Linked DNA regions of Homo sapiens: region 2 is linked to region 1. Evidence: fine-mapped expression QTL. Tissue or cell type: whole blood. Region 1 holds a variant in brackets; the other region holds the start of a gene. All regions are shown on one strand. Distances are from middle to middle.

Evidence for each region. PIP is the estimated chance that this variant, and not a neighbour inherited with it, causes the effect.
Region 2: SCD5 starts here. The variant in region 1 is fine-mapped to the expression of SCD5 in whole blood (TOPMed, PIP 0.97).

Annotation. Positions count from the first base shown.
Region 1 is chr4:83,077,076-83,085,180 of GRCh38, forward strand. No RefSeq gene overlaps it. Among named protein-coding and RNA genes, the nearest start is that of PLAC8, 34 kb to the right of the region's middle. RefSeq lists an enhancer at 7,278-7,327. The variant T/C (reference allele first, on the strand shown) is at 3,494.
Region 2 is chr4:82,794,182-82,802,283 of GRCh38, forward strand. It overlaps SCD5 (stearoyl-CoA desaturase 5), which reads right to left and starts at 4,615. Exons shown (of 5, transcript NM_001037582.3): 1 at 4,125-4,615. The coding sequence starts at 4,356. RefSeq lists enhancers at 2,841-3,362, 4,339-5,056, 5,057-5,773 and silencers at 4,171-4,220, 4,551-4,970.

The DNA.
Region 1 (8,105 bases):
AAAAAACACTCTCACAGAAATGAATGCCTTTGATGGGCTTATCATTAGTCTACTTGGCCAAGGAAAGAAACAGCCTGATAATATGTCAATAGAAACTTCCTAAACTGAAATGCAAAGAGAAAAAGGAATGAAAAAAAAAAAATTGGGACAGAATATCCAAGAACTGGAGAACAATATAAAAGGTGTCACATGTGGTCAGGCGCGGTGGCTCACGCCTGTAATCCCAGCACTTTGGGAGGCCGAGGCGGGCACATCACAAGGTCAGGAGATTGAGACCAGCCTGGTTAACACGGTGAAACACCGTCTCAACTAAAAAATACAAAAAATTAGCCAGTGGTGGTGGGTGCCTATAGTCCCAGCTACTTGGTAGGCTGAGGCAGGAGAATGGCGTGAACCCGGGAGGCAGAGCTTGCAGTGAGCTGGTATCACGCCACTGCACTCCAGCCTGGGCGACAGAGCGAGACTCTGTCGTGTCACATGTGTAATGGGGATACCAGAAGGAAAAGAAAGAGGAAGAGAAGAAATATTTGAAATAGGCCGGGCACGGTGGCTCACACCTGTAATCCCAGCACTTTGGGAGGCCGAGGTGGGCGGATCACGAGGTCAGGAGATCTGGCTAACATGGTGAAACCCCGTCTCTACTAAAAATACAAAAAATTAGCCAGGAGTGGTGGCAGGCGCCTGTAGTCCCAGCTACTCGGGAGGCTGAGGCAAGAGAATGGCATGAACCCGGGAGGCAGAGCTTGCAGTGAGCCGAGAGCACGCCACTGAACTCCAGCCTGGGCAACAGAGGGAGACTCCTTCTCAAAAAAAAAAAAAAAAAAAAAAAAATTTGAAATAATGTTTAAGAATTTTCTGAAATGAATAATAGACACTAAACCACAGATCCAGGAAGCTAAGAAAAGGCCAAGCAGAATAACTACCAAAAAATTGACACCTAGATGTATATCTAAACTGTAGAAAACCAAAAACATAAAATCTTGAAAGAAGCCAGAAGAAAAAAACACATATAGAGAAACATGAATAACATTGGATTTCTTGTCAGAAATCATGCAAGCAAGAGCCAGAATGGAAATATTTATGATGTTAAAAGAAAAACTTCACAAACATAGGATTTTATCCAGCAAAATTATCCTTCAAATGTGAAGGAGAAAAGCAAAGAGAAAATCAAATTGAAAAAAAGAAATAGTGAAGGAGAAATGAAGACTAAAACTAAGGAAATTTAAGGCTGGGCATAGTGGCTCAGACCTATAATCCCAACATTTGGGGAGGCCAAGGCAGGTGTATTGCTTGAGCCCAGGAGTTCAAGACCAGTTTGGGCAACATGGCGAAACCCCGTCTCTACAAAAAATATAAAAGTAGCCAGGCATGGTGGTGTGTGCCTGTGGTCTCAGCTACTTGGGAGGCTGAAATGGGAGGATTGTTTGAGCCAGGGAGGTGGAGGTTGCAGTGAGCTGAGATTGCACCATTGCACTCCAGTCTGGGTGATAGTGTGAGACCCTGTCTCAAAAAAAAAAAAAAGGATTCTTTTTTTGCCAGGAGACATACTTTGCAAGAAATGTTAAAGTAAGGTTTCCAGAGAGAAGGAAAATGATATGGATTAGAAACTCAGATCTACATAAAGAAAGGAAGAGTATCAGAGCAAAAAAACAGGAAGGTAAAATCTTTTTAAAAAATTTAATTGATTTAATAGATAACTTTATTTAAAGGAATTATAGCAACAATGTGTGGATAGCTATAGCCTAGGGATAACTGAAGTGAATGACTGGAGTGTAAGTGATGGGAGGAAGGAATTGGGAATACCCTGTTATGAAGTATCCGCACAACCATGACACAGTATAGTGTTATTTGAAACTTGACTTAGATTAGTTGTAAATGTATATTGCAAACTCTAAATCACTATTAAAAAACTTTTTAAAGAAATATAATTGTTATGCTAAGAGAGGAGAGAAATAGAATGATAAAATGCTTATTTAAAACCAGAGTGTCAGCCAGGCGTGGTGGCTCACGCCTGTAATCCTAGCACTTTGGGAGGCTGAGGCAGGTGGATCACCTGAGGTCAGGAATTTGAGACCAGCCTAGCCAATATGGCGAAACCCTATCTCTACTAAAAATACAAAAATTAGCCAGGCATGGTGGCGGATGCCTGTAATCCCAGCTACTTGGGAGGCTGAGGCAGGAGAATTACTTGAATCCTGGGGGTGGAGGTTGCAGTGAGCTGAGATCACACCACTTCACTCCAGCCTGGGCAGCAGAGTGAAACTCCGTCTCAAAATAAATAAATAAAATAAAATAAAATAAAATCAGAGTGTCAGCAAGAGTATCAAAAAATACATGAGGCAGAAACTGATAAAACTGCAAGGAGAAATAGATGAATCCACTATTATAGTTGGAGATCTCAACTTCAATGCCTATCAGCAAAGGACAGATCCAGTAAGTAGAAAATCAGTAAGGACATTGTTGTACTCAACAGCACCACCAATCAACTGAATATAATTGACATCCATAGACTGCTTCGTCCTGCAACAACAGAGTACTCACTCTTGTCAGCTCACTTGGAGCGTTCACTGAGGTAGACCAACCTGGGCCATAAAACACACCTCAAAATGTAAAAGAATAGAAATTATACACTGTATGTTCTCAGACAACAATGGAATTTTTTTCTTTTTGAGACAGAGTTTTGCTCTTGTCACCCAGGCTGGAGTGCAGTGGTGTGATCTTGGCTCACTGCAACCTCTGCCTCCCGGGTTCAAGCAATTCTGCCTCATAATCATAATCCTGAAAGACACAATCCTGAATGCCAAACCCCAAATGTTGATGTCCCAAAAGATCAAAATCCTTAAAGTTCAAAATTTCTAAAGTCTAAATCCCTCATGTCTAAAATCCTGAAAATTACAATCCCAAAAGATTAAAATCCTCAATGTTGAAACCCTGAAAGCCAAATTCTGGGGAAGGGGATTAGTGTATTTTTTGGTTGTACACAGGATGGTTGCATCATGTTAGTTGTGTCATGTCAAGCAGAACCATAGCCTTTTTGTCTTTATTTGGAAATTAAGTGTGATTTAAGGGGATGCAAATGAGTGCCAAATTGACAAGGGGTGGACAGTGGACATAATTTTAGGTGTCAACTTGAATGGATTAAGGAATACCTAGAAACCTGGTAAAGCATTATTTTGGATGTGGCTGTGAGAGTGTTTTCAGAGATTAGAATGTGAGTCTGAGTGGACTAAGTGGGGGATGATCTGCCCTCATTGTTGGGAGGCACCAACTACTTGACCAGGGTCCCAAACAGAACAAATATAGAAGGCAAATTGGTCTCTCTCTGAGATCTGGGACAGACTTTTCTTCTCCTGTCTTGGACCCAGAACTCCAGGTTTGCCAGCCTTCGGACTCCGGAACTTACACCAGTGGCCCCCTGGATCCTGAGGCTTTTGGCCTCAGATGGATAGTTGCACCATCAGCTTTCCTGGTTCTGAGGCCTTTGGAGTTGGAC[T/C]GAACCATGCTACCGGTATCCCAAGGTCTCCAGCTTTCGGATGGCCTCACCGTGGGTCTTTTCAGCCACCATAATTGCATGAGCCAAGTTCCCTAATAAATTTCCTCTCATATCCTATTGGTTCTGTCTCTCTAGAGAACCCTGACTAATACAGATTTGGTATTGGGGAAGCTGAACATCATTTCTTCTTACTGTATTGCTTACCACACAATGGAAGAGATCTGTGAAATTGTTCCCTTGCAAAAAGGCTGTGTTAAGTGTATGAGGCTACTTAACAGTGAAACAGTTTAAAAGTTAATTGTTATTCGTGCTGCAAACGTAGAAAATCACCTAATTGCAATGGCTGAGAAATAACCAGACTTTCAGATGGACAGCAGGTACTTACGAAATTTGTAGACCACAACCACTCCCCAAATACAAGTACTGTGAGTGTTTTGAAGATCATAGAAGTGAAAACACAGGCCAAAAATACAAGAAATCTCTTATGCCAAATTATTTAATCATGTATGGCTTCTGCCCCTTTACACATAATGCCAACTCGATATGCTATGTATTTCATCTTCGCATTATTTTCAATACTGAAGGTAAATTTAGATCTCTCTTTTTTTCTTAGTCTGGCTAAAAGCTTGTCAATTTTGCTTAACTTTTCAAAAAACCAACTTTTTGTTTCATTGATTTTTGTATTGTTTACTTCATTTTAATTTCATTTATTTCTGTTCTGATCTTTATTATTTCTTCTACTAATTTTGGATTTGGTTTGCTCTTGTTTTCCTAATTCTTTAAGATGCATCATTAGATTGTTTATTTAATGTAGGCACTATAAGTTTCCCTCTTTTTTGATGTAGGCACTATAACGATAAGCTTCCCTCTTAGTACTGCTTTTGCTGTATCCCATAGATTTTGGTATGTTGTGCTCCCATTAGCATTTGTTCCAAGAAATTTTTAAATTTCTTATTAAAATGATCCATCCTTGAGAATGATCCATATGCTGAGGAAAAGCATGTGTATTCCACAGCCATTGGATGAAATGTTCCGTAATTATCTACTGGATCCATTTGGTCTATTGTGCAGATTAAGTCTGATGTTTCTTTATTGATTTTTCTGCCTGGAAGATCCATCCAGTGCTGAAAGTGGGGTGTCGAAGTCTCCAGCTATTATTGTATTGGGGCCTAACTCTCTCTTTAGCTCTTTTTTTTGTTTTGTTTTGTTTTGAGATGGAGCCTGGCTCTGTTGCCCAGGGTGGAGTGCAGTGGTATGATCTTGGCTCACTGCAACCTCCGCCTCCCAGGTTCAAGCTATTCTCCTGCCTCAGCCTCCCAAGTAGCTGGGATTACAGACATGTGCCACCATACCCGGCTAATTTTGTATTTTTAGTAGAGATAGGGTTTCTCCATCTTGGTCAAGCTGGTCTCGAACTCCCAACCTCAGGTGATCCACCTGCCTTGGCCTCCCCAAAGTGCTGGGATTATAGGCATGAGCCACTGCGCCTGGCCTTTTTTATTTTTTTAAGGAGGGGGGGGGTCTCACTACATTGTCTAGGCTAGACTCAAACTCCTGGGCTCAAGTGATCCTTCTGCCTCGACCTCCTGAAATGCTGTGATTACAGGCATGAGCCACCATGACTGGCCCTGACTGTGTATTTTCAAATAGCCTGTCTTCAGGCTCACTAATTCTTTCTTCTGCTTGATCAATTCTGCTACTGAAAGCCTCTAATGCATTGTTCAGTATGCCAATTGCATTTTTAGCTCTGGAATCTCAGTTTGATTCTTTTTATTTTAATCTTTTTGTTAAATGTATCTGATATAATTTTGAATTCCTTCTCTGTGTTATCTTGAATTTCTTGAGTTTCCTCAACACAGCTATTTTGAATTCTCTGCCTGAAAGGTCACACATCTCTGTTTCTCCAGGATTGGTCCCTGGTGGCTCATTTAGTTCATTTGGGAGGTCATGTTTTCCTGGATGGTGTTGATGTTAGTAAATGTTCTTCAGTGTCTGGGCATTGAAGAGTGAAGTATTTATTGTAGTCTTCACTGTCTAGGCTTATTTGTACCCATCCCTCTTAGAAAGGCTTTCCAGATATTTGAAAGTACTTGGATATTGTGATGTAAGCTGTATCTGATTTAGAGAGCACCCCAATCCCAGTAACACTGTTTTCTTGCAGACTCATGGAGGTACTACCTTGATGGTCTTGGAAAAGATCCAGAAGAATTCTCTGCATTATCAGGCAGAGAGACTCCTGTTCCATTCTGTTACTTTCTTCCAAGCAAAAAGAGTCTCACTCTCCTTGTTCTGAGCCACATAAAGCCGGCGGTGGAGTGACACAAGCATCCCTGTGGCCACCACCACTATGACTGCATTGGGTCAGACCTGAAGCCAGCACAGCAGTGGGGCTTGCCAAGGCTGGCTGTAACCACTTCCTGGCTACTGCCTATGTTTGCTGAAGGCCCTGGGGCTCTACAATTAGCTGGTGGCAAAGCCGGCCAGGCCTGTGTCCTTCCCTTCAGAGCCGTGAGGTCCCCCAGGCCCCAGGTGAGTCCAGAGGTGCCTTTTGGGAATCAGGGACTAGAGTAAAAAAACTTGGAAGTCTAGCTGGTGTTCTATTGTACTGTGGCTGAGCTGGTATTCAGACCACCAGATGCAGTCCTTCCCACTCTTCCTTTCCCTTCCCAAATGCAGAGGAGCCTCACCCCATAGCCACTGTCAACCCAGGCCACGAGGAGTACTGCCAGGCTACCTCCAATATTCCCTTAAGCATCGAGGTATCTTAAGTCAAGCTTGTGTTGAATGCTTCCTGCCTTGGGACTCGCCCTTCAGGGCAATGGGTTCCCCTCTGGCCTGGGGCAGGTGCAGAAATGGTGTCCAACAGTCAAGTCCTGGAATCGGAGACCTCAAGAGCCCACTTGGTGCTTTACCCCACTGTGGCTGTGCTGGTACCTAAGGTGCAAGACAAAGCCCTCTTTACTTTTCCTTCTGCTTTTCTCAAACAGAAGGAGTTTTGCCTTGTTGCCACCACAGCTAGTAATGTGCTGAGTCTCACCTGAAGCCAGCAAGTCTCAGAGGCTCAACCAAGGGCCTTGACATAGTACCTAAATGTAACTGCTGGTTATTCAGGGTCCTGCCAACCTTCAGTTAGCAGGTGATGAATGCTGCCAGGACTGAGTCCTTTTCTTCAAGGTAGTGGGTTTCCTTCTGACCCATGGTGTGTCTAGAAATGTCATCTGGGAACTAGGGCCTGGAATGGGGGCCTCACGACTCTTCCCAGTCCCCTATTCTGCCGCAGCTGAACTGGTATCCAAGATGCAAGATGAAGTCCTCCCCACTCTTCTTTCTCCTCTCCACAAGCAGAAGGAAAGGGTCTCCTTTGGAGCCACGGGCTGTGCAGCCTGGAGTTAGGGAAGGGGTGACGCCAGCACGCCCTTGGCTGCCTTAGCTGGTGTCTCAGTATGTCACCTGCCCTCCCAGTTAACTGCCTCTGGGCCTAGTTCAGCACTAGAACTCGCCTGAGATCTGCAGTCTTCATGGCCTGGGCTGCCTTTCAAGTTTACTTGGAGACCCAGACTGTAGCCCTCGGTGGTGAGGTTTGCAGGAACTCAAGTTTAGACCACTGGGATCAGTGATTCCCCTCTGGGTAGGGCTGTTATTAAATGCTCCCTCCATGGGCAGGCGTCAGCTGAGTTGGGTGTGGTTTTCCTTCCTGCCGTAACAGGACAGCACTGAGTTCAGTGCATCACAGTTGCTGTGTTCTCCCTCCCGTGCACGCAGAGATATCCTCAGTACCACAACACAGCTGCAGGGGCAGAGGGGCGTCAGTGATTCAGGACTGTTTTTGCTATTTCTTCGGTGTCTCTTTCAGCATTATAAAGTTAAGAGCAGGTACTATGAGTGCTCACCTGATTTTTAACACCTCATGAAGTTGTTAAATTGGTGTCCTTGTGGAGGGGGATGATAGCTGCAGTCTTCTATTCCTCCATTTTTCTCTGTCTCCTCATTTTTTTTTTTTTTTTTTTGGAGACGGAGTCTTGCTCTGTCACCCAGGCTGGAGTGCAATGGCACGATCTCGGCTCACTGCAGCCTCCGCCTCCAGGTTCAAGCGATTCTCCTGCCTCAGACTCCTGAGTAGCTGGGACTACAGGTGCTACCATGAACAGCTAAATTTAATTTTTTTAATTATTATATATTGTGGGCGAAGGATTACCTAGGTGCCGAGGCAAGAGACTAAAGGCACAAACTGTTTCAGTATAATAAAGAAAATAGAATAAGAATAGTCATAATACAAATTAGATATAGAGATGATCGTGGACAATTATCAATCATTATTATAAACATTATTAATCATTAGCTTTTAATATTACTCTTTGTTGCATTACTAATATAACCTAGGAATAACCAGCGGGTATAGGGTCAGGTGCTGAAAGCACATTGTGACAAGTTACCTAGAAGGCAAGAGCTGAGCCTTCTGTCACGCCCGCATAAGGGCCGCTTGAGGGCTCCTTGGTCAAGCGGTAATGCCAGTGTCTGGGAAGACACCCACGACGTAGCAGACCGCAAAAGGGAGTCTCCTTTCCTTGGTGGAGTCAGGGAACACTCTGCTCCACCAGCTTCTTGTGGGAGG
Region 2 (8,102 bases), 280 kb before region 1:
CCCAGCAGGGCACCAGAGAACGCTATATCTGCCTTAACAATGGTCACGTTTGCGCCAAGACAGGATAGAAGGATGGCTGATCTATCAAAGGAAACAGGGAAAATTACTGCTTTGCATGCCTGGTGCTGTCACTGAAGTTATCTCATGAGGAAAAGAGTCATGATGTCACTATGGGACACATTTAGGGGACTCGGATGACATTTAGGGAAAAAACAGAAAAGGCCTTGATGTTTCTGGGAGCCAACAGCCAGATGTCTGGAGGCCATCAGGGGAGGCTCCGCTGGGAAGCAGCCCCAGGACTCACACGTCCACACAGTAACTGCAAGGCCTCACTCCCTGCTCTACCCATCTTGGGATTCAGGGCATTGACTAACTGTCCCTTTGGCCAGAAACTCTCAAGCAGGCATTTTTGTGAGCTCAAGCCTTCAGATGCAGGTTTTTCCTCTAGTTGGAGTTTGCATTCTGTCCATTTTTTTTTTTTTTTTTGAGACGGAGTCTCACTCTGTCGCCTAGGCTGGAGTGCAGTGGCGCAATCTCGGCTCCCTGCAAGCTCCACCTCCCAGGTTCACGCCATTCTCCTGCCTCAGCCTCCCGAGTAGCTGGGACTACAGGTGCCCACCACCACGCCCGGCTAATTTTTGTATTTTTTTTAGTAGAGATGGGGTTTCACCGTGTTAGCGAGGATGGTCTCGATCTCCTGACCTTGTGATCAGCCCGCCTCGGCCTCCCAAACTGCTGGGATTATAGGCGTGAGCCACCATGCCCGGCCGCTTTCTGTCCTTGAAAGTCATGAACGCATTGCTGAGGACCTGGGGGCACCAAGAGCATTCTGTCCTGACAGCCTGCCCACTCATAAAACGAAAAGGATAAAAAGGGAAAACAACATGCTCTGGCCCCAAGGAGAACTAACAACTTGATGAACTAACAATTTGATGGCTCTTTCACGGATGACATTTTACCACCACACAAATTACTCTCTGCACACTGCACATCCAACACATCCCCTGCTGGGTGCACTGCATAGATGCCTCTTGTTTCCAGCACAACCTCATCTGGTGTGGAGGGTGGCAAGCAATGGACAGGCTAAGCCTATTTCCTCTACAAGTCAGGTCCTTGAAGTGCATGAGCAGCCCACTGGGGCATGAACTTGGCCCTAATGCTACACATAACCAGTAGGGAGGTGGTGAAAAAGGGCCTTCAGTGGGGGGAAATTTGTGGATCAAGGCACCAGGGCTTTCACTGAAAATAACCCTGAGTCAGTGGTCTGCCTCGTCCCTCTGCTTACTATGTAGCCTAGCCATCAGCACAGCTGATCTTAGCTGGTCTCTGATTGTCCCTCATTTCTTCCCTCAAAAGCTATTCATGAGACTGGGTACAGTGGCTCACGCCTGTAATCCCAGTACTTTGGGAGGACTGCTTGAGCCCAGGAATTCAAGACCGGCCTGGGCAACATGGTGAGACCCCCATCTCTACAAAAAAATGAAAAAGAAAATAGCCAGGTGTGGTGGTGCACACCTGTAGTCCCAGCTACTTGGGAGGCTGCGGTGGGAGCATTGCTTGAGCCCAGGAGACTGAGACTGCAGTGAGCTATGATCGTGCCACTGCACTCCAGCAAGACCCTGTCTCACAAAAAAAAAAAAAAAAAAAAAAAAAAGCAGCAGAGGCAGTAGCTATTCATCAGATAAGACCCATTGTTTGGACTGTTTCTAAGTCACAATTTTGGACCTTAAAACTCTAATATCTACCATTGTCTGCTATTTTTTTTTTTAGGGAGGCAATGAAGGTGGGGAGAGAATTAAGACTTACGGGCCGGGCGCAGTGGCTCACGCCTGTAATTCCAGCAGTTTAGGAGGCTGAGGTGGGTGGATCACGAGGTCAGGAGATTGAGACCATCCTGGCTAACACGGTGAAACCCCATCTCTACTAAAAATACAAAAAATTAGCCGGGCGTGGTGGCGGGCACCTGTAATCCCAACTACTTGGGAGGCTGAAGCAGGAGAATGGTGTGAACCCAGGAGGCGGAGCTTGCGGTGAGCCGAGATCGCACCACTGCACTCCAGCCTGGGCGACAGAGCGAGACTCTGTCTCAAAAAAAAAAAAAAGACTTAGGAAATAGCAGATGAAGCACAGGCAGAATTTATCCAGGAAGGTATGGAATGGGGTTTGGGACATGAGTCACAAAGGGGAAACCAGATTCCTTCAGTGTGTTAACTTCTCTAAGGAAGCTAGAGGACACTGGGGCCTGGGAGGTGTCCTCTAAGCCAAGATCTTTCAGAACAAAGGTTCTATCTTCACCACAGAGAGCGGTCCGGAAAGGGCAGAGGTGACCTGGCAAACTTGGAGAGAGGGGCCTTGTCCTTGTGGCTCCTGGTCCAGTGCCAGGGTCTTGGGGCTCAGAGGCTGTAAGAAGTGGAGCCAGTGAGCCCTAGGCATGTAAGATAATATTTTAAGTGCTCACTTTTCCCTGAGCACTCTCTGAACACCACAGCTATTAAAGATAAGCCTCAATCCCCTAGAGGTCACCAGGCTCTGAGGACCAAGCCCAGCCCTGCCTCTGGAAGCAGGGGGGAGAGAGGAGCTTGTTGGAGAACTCTGGGCAATAAGGGCTTTGGTTGGCAGTGTCGGAGTGTGTTGATGAAGCAACAGCTGAACATCATACAGTCTACAGTCAGTTGGAGAATTAAACCAACACATAAAGGTGATGGTGAAAAGGACACAGAAATGAGGAGGTGCACTGAGAGAAGGAAAGATGAAGCAGGAGATTTCCCAGAGCTTTGGGGAGACTTTAAAGGCTTTAGGGATCCCCAAAGATCCTACCTCTCTCACCATCCGTCAACTCTGCTATGCCCTCCCTGAGCCACACCCCCTAAGAGGTACCCACTTCTGGATGGGTTTACTTCCAAGAGCAGGGACTGCAGGATTTCAAGGGAAGGCTTGGAACCATAGTGGCCCCATTATCTACCTAGGCATTTGCAGCTGGCACCATGCCAAAAAAGCCCTGTAGAAAGAGGTCTTATTTTCTTCCTTCCTCTTCCCCTCTGGAAATAAAAGTAGGTTGTGTTTCTCCTGCCCGCCCCTAGAGATCAGGGAAACGGGAGCTGGAAGGGCATCTTGGATTACCTCGTCAAATTCTCACTCAGCATATCAATGCCTGTGCCTTTTGTCCTGGCTACTGCCGCTTCAGTAAAGGAGGCCAAAACCAGTTATTGCGGCCAGGGCGGCTGCGAAGTGGTTCAAAGATCAACGACTGGGGTCGTGTAGGGTGGGCACGCAGTCCCTGGGGCCCAGGGGAAGGGGAATGGTGGTCGGCGCCCGGGCTCCCTTCCCTACTGGCAGGAGTGGGGGTGCACGGAAGGAGGGTACCAGGAGAGCCACAGGTTCCCACTGGCCACATGGGAACAGGGTTTGGAGAAGGCTCTGCACAGCCACAGTCGGAGCTTCGTGCTAGGGTCAGACCGCTCTCGCCATGGGATCGGTTTGCTCACCGAGAAACTTCACCGAGAACTGCAAATGGGCATAGAAGATTGCGGAGGGGGCAGGGACAGGGGCCTTGGAGAGGCAAGAGGGGAACCGGTATCTTCCATCTGGTGCGCGTAAACCAAGACTCTATCCTGTGCCGGGTCTCTCCTCCCCGGTCCAACTCCCTTACTTGTCCTCATCTCTGTCCCCAAGGTCCGTGACCCGCGGAGGTGATGGGGGGGATAGGAGAGCCCCAGGGACCGCAGAGGTGACACAATCGCCCGCCCGTCCTCCCTCGCTGGGAGCCGATTCAGCCTGTGCCGAGCCTCTCCCTTCGCGCGCCTCTGCGCACAGCGGTGGCACCGCAGGACTCCGGGTCCCCCCCGGCTCTCCATCGGGAAGCCGGCAAATGCGCTTCCTCAGGCAGACCGCGGCGGGGTGGGGGCGGGGGGGGGGCGGAAGTTGAAATACTGGGACAGAAACACCTGCCCGTCCCAAGGGACGGAAAACTGGATGCCAAGGGGGCCGCGGCGCGCAGCGGGAGGCGAGGGGAGACCGGGGGTCGCTGCGCACCGCCCGCAGCCGAGGGGCGAGCGGCGACCTCGCGCGCCCCAGCGCGGCCTGGCCACGGAGGCCGGGGCGCAGGGGGCGCCGGCGGGACTTACCCCAGAGCAGAGTGAGTGGCTTGGCTTTGGGGATGAGCACCAGGGAGTACACGGCCCCCAAGTGGAGCAAGCTCATCAGGACGACATTCCTCCAGACGATGTTCTGCCGCTGCCCGCGCGCGCCTGGCCTCTCCGGGCCGCCGCCGCCCTCAGAGCTTTCGAGCCCGGCACGGATTTCTTCCTTGGCGTCGCAGAAAGGGATCTTCCCCGCGTCGGTGGCCGGGCCTGGCATGGCTGGGCGAGGTGGGCGCCCGCAGCAGCGGCAGGCAGGCAGGCGCTCTGCCCGAGCGGAGCTCGAGGGTGGGGGCGGGGGCTTCTGCCTTTTAGGGGGGAATTCTCCGCACGTCCAGTCCCCTCCTTCCAGCCCTTCTCCCGGGCTCCTGCGCTCTTCCCCAGGGTCTTAGCGTGGCCTAGGGATGCAGATCTTGGCGGCCGGCGTCTGTTGCTGGCGTATCCCCCATATGGCTGCCCGGGCTGAACTCGGCCGCGAGAAAGAGGAGGCGCGCGCGGGGCGGGAGGGGCGCGCGGCCGGGGAGGAGGAGCTGTGAAAATGGAACGGGGCCGGCGACGCTGGAGGGAGCGCTCCGAAGGAGCGCGGAAGAAAGCCCTGCTTAGCTACAGCCAATCAGGAGCGCCCGTGCGGCGCTTATAGACAAAGGCGCCCCCCTTTCGGCTTTTCGGGGCCGAACTGGGGAGCCCGCTGGGCGGGAGTTGGCCGCCTCCGCCCGGGGGCGGGTGGAAGGTGGCTCCCGGGGCAGGGAGCCTGCAGGGCGGCTCACAGCGCTTCTGCTCTTGTGTGTGTGTGACCCCCAAAATGCCTTTTATGGTATTTTTCCAGTCCCCCCCCCAAAAAAAAACTTCCCGAAACTGTCATCCCTTTGAGAAGCCTTTTATTTCTTCTCAAGCCTCAGGCCACCTGGGTTGGAGAATTTTAAATACTTGCTTGGAGTCGCGACCCTAGTTAAGGCCAGACCCACGATGAGAATCAGAAGTCCCTCAATCTGCCAGTTAGTAGGGCTCCTCGGGCCAGGGGAGGGTTGGAAGGCAGCTGCTCGTTCTTAATTAGGCAGCTGTGGATTACCCAGGCACACAGTAAGTGCTCAGTTGGTGCTTGTGAGGTGATGCACAGATGATTTGGGCCAGTTCGCTGCCCACCCTTTGCCCATCCGCCGCGCCACTCTGTTTATGGTCAATTCTAGCTAATCAGCGCACTTCTGCAACGCCTCCTTAGCTCTCAGTGAGGAACACTACCCTGAAATCAACACCATTGAGAATCGGGCTTTACAAAAAAATCACCCAGAATGTTCCAAGGAAAATTAACCTGTGAAAGATTTGTGTCTGCCCACTTCTCTCCTAGAGCTGATGGCTTAAGAGCTCTCCAGAGAGGACCCTAGTTGCACAGAAAATGGAGGGAGGATTGAGCTGGAAGTGTCTGAAGCAGGTGTGACCGCAATTGCGGGCAGGCAGCAGAAGTAAAAGGGCTCGGGACAGCATCTCTGAGTTCTAGTTTTAACTGGCTGGAACCCAGCCCAACTCTCTGGGCACGGATTTCCTTACCTGAGAAGCAGAACTAGTTTCTACTCTTCCTTCCAGCTTCCATATTCCATGAATGTGAGTTCGAAGGGGCGCCATTATATTGACCAAAACCAGCTGATTTTTAGATTAACCGTTGTTAGGAATCATTTCCAGGATTTCAAGAGAGGCAAAAAAATTTAAAAGACTGACTGCATGAAAGGGCCATGCATAAGCATCTTATTGTTAGCAGACCTGAGCCAGTCCTAGCAGCCAGACAAAACAATGCCTGATTTAAGCTAAAGCAAGGTATGTGGCACTTGTGGAATCTAGGCCACTGAGTCAGTGTTACTGTGTTGCTTCAGACGGAGCTGAAATTATAGAATTTGCCTGGAGACCAGATAAATGTCGGCCCTATATAATGACCAGTCAGACAGTGGAACATGAAGCTGGAGGGTGCGATTTTCATCTGTCTGTTCAACCTGGGCTATGTAATGAACCACGTTTTCTTCTCATGCTCCCTCTGCTCCCCATACCCAGCAGACCTTCCTACTCCCTGTGGCTCTCTAGTTCAGACTGTCCTTTCTCTCTGGGGTAGACTAGTTGCTCGGCCAAAAGCCTCTCTCCGGGTTATTGGAAAGGCTCAATGCTGTAAAGACCCTCATTCTAAACATTCAGTCATTTATTTGGCATTTATTGGGCATCTGCTATGTGCCAGGACCAGTGGGCACAGGGGATCCAAGGATGAATAAAGTCTGGTCCCGCCCCTAAAGGAGCTCCCATCTAGAAGCAAAGATGGAGCAAACAAATGTAACCTCTTGACTATGACCTTGGAAGGGCAGAAAGTTACAGTCCATTATCGGAAAAAAAAATTTAATTAGGTATCAAACTTACATACAAGGAGTCTAAGGGAAGCAAAAATAGTTCCTTATTGTCCCCCCTGAGAACCTTATTAGGTCAGCTGTTCTATCTTGAATCCATCTTTTGTTTGTTTGTTTGTTTTTGTTTTTGAGACGGAGTCTCGCTCTGTTGCCCAGGCTGGTGTGCAGAGGCCTGATCTCGGCTCACTGCAAGATCTGCCTCCCGGGTTCACGCCATTCTCCTGCCTCAGCCTCCCGAGTAGCTGGGACTACAGGTGCCCGCCACCACGCCCGGCTATTTTTTTTTTTTTTTTTTTTTTTGTATTTTTAGTAGAGACGGGGGTTTCACTGCGTTAGCCAGGATGGTCTCGATCTCCTGACCTTGTGATCCGCCAGCCTTGGCCTCCCAAAGTGGTGGGATTGCAGGCGTGAGCCACTGTGCCCGGCCCTTGAATCCATCTTGAATGAACATCTTTCTCTTTTCCCTCCTGTGGGTCAGACCAGGTATGACCAGTCATTTCAGCTGGCTGTCCTCATAATGGAGAAGATGTTTTTGTGTGTTGAGGGAGGAAAGAAGTGTTACTTAGGTTTGTCAGAGCCTGCCTATAAAAGGATTGTTGAAGAAAAATGGTCCTTCCAGGTCCAGCCTCAGAGTGAAACATCTACAAGATCCAAGATATATTCTTGCTGATAACGACGGTCCTCTTTAGCCAATTATGCCATAGGGGTCACTGCCTCTTTTCTCTGTCTTGCCAAAGACCCTAGTATATTTTCCTAGCTTCTAGTCAGGACCCCAGGAGTGGATAAGTATTCACCTGTCCCAGGATGGGGCAAATGGGACAGTAACCCTTATCCTGTCAAACACGTAATTACCAAAAATGTAATAAGAGCCATAATGGTGGTATACGCAAGATAATGTAGAGGTGCAAAGGAGGGAGTTGTTAATTCACACAGAAGCAGGGAGGAGGGGGAGTGATACCTGGGGAAGGATTTTTAAAAAATATTTAATTGTGGTAAAATACATGTAACATAAAATGTATGTAACAAAATTTACCACTGTAACCGTTTTTAAATGTACAGTTCAGTAGTGTTAACTATATATGCACATTACTGTGCAACCGATCTGCAGAACTTTATCATTTTGCAAAACTGAAACTTTATGCTCATTAAACTCCCCTTTCAATCTCCATCCAGATGCTGGCAACCACTGTGCTACTTTGTTTCAATTAGTTTGACTACTCTAGATACATCATATAAGTGAAATAATAGAGGATTTGTCTTTCTGTGACTGGCTTATTTCACTTAGAATGTTTTCAAAGCTCATCCAGGTTGTATGTGTTAGAATTCCCTTCCTTTTAAGACTGAATAATATTCTATTGTATGGATATGAATTTTGTTTATCCATTCATCTATCTAACAGTGGACATTTGGGTTGCGCCACCTTTTGGCTACTGGAAATAATGTTGCTGGGAACATGGGTGTACAAAGATCTCTTCAGGACCTGCTTTCAATTCTTTTCGGTATATATATGTATATCCAGAAGTGGTATTGCTGGATCTTATGGTAATTCTATGTTTAATTTTTTGAGGAACTGTCATACTGTTTT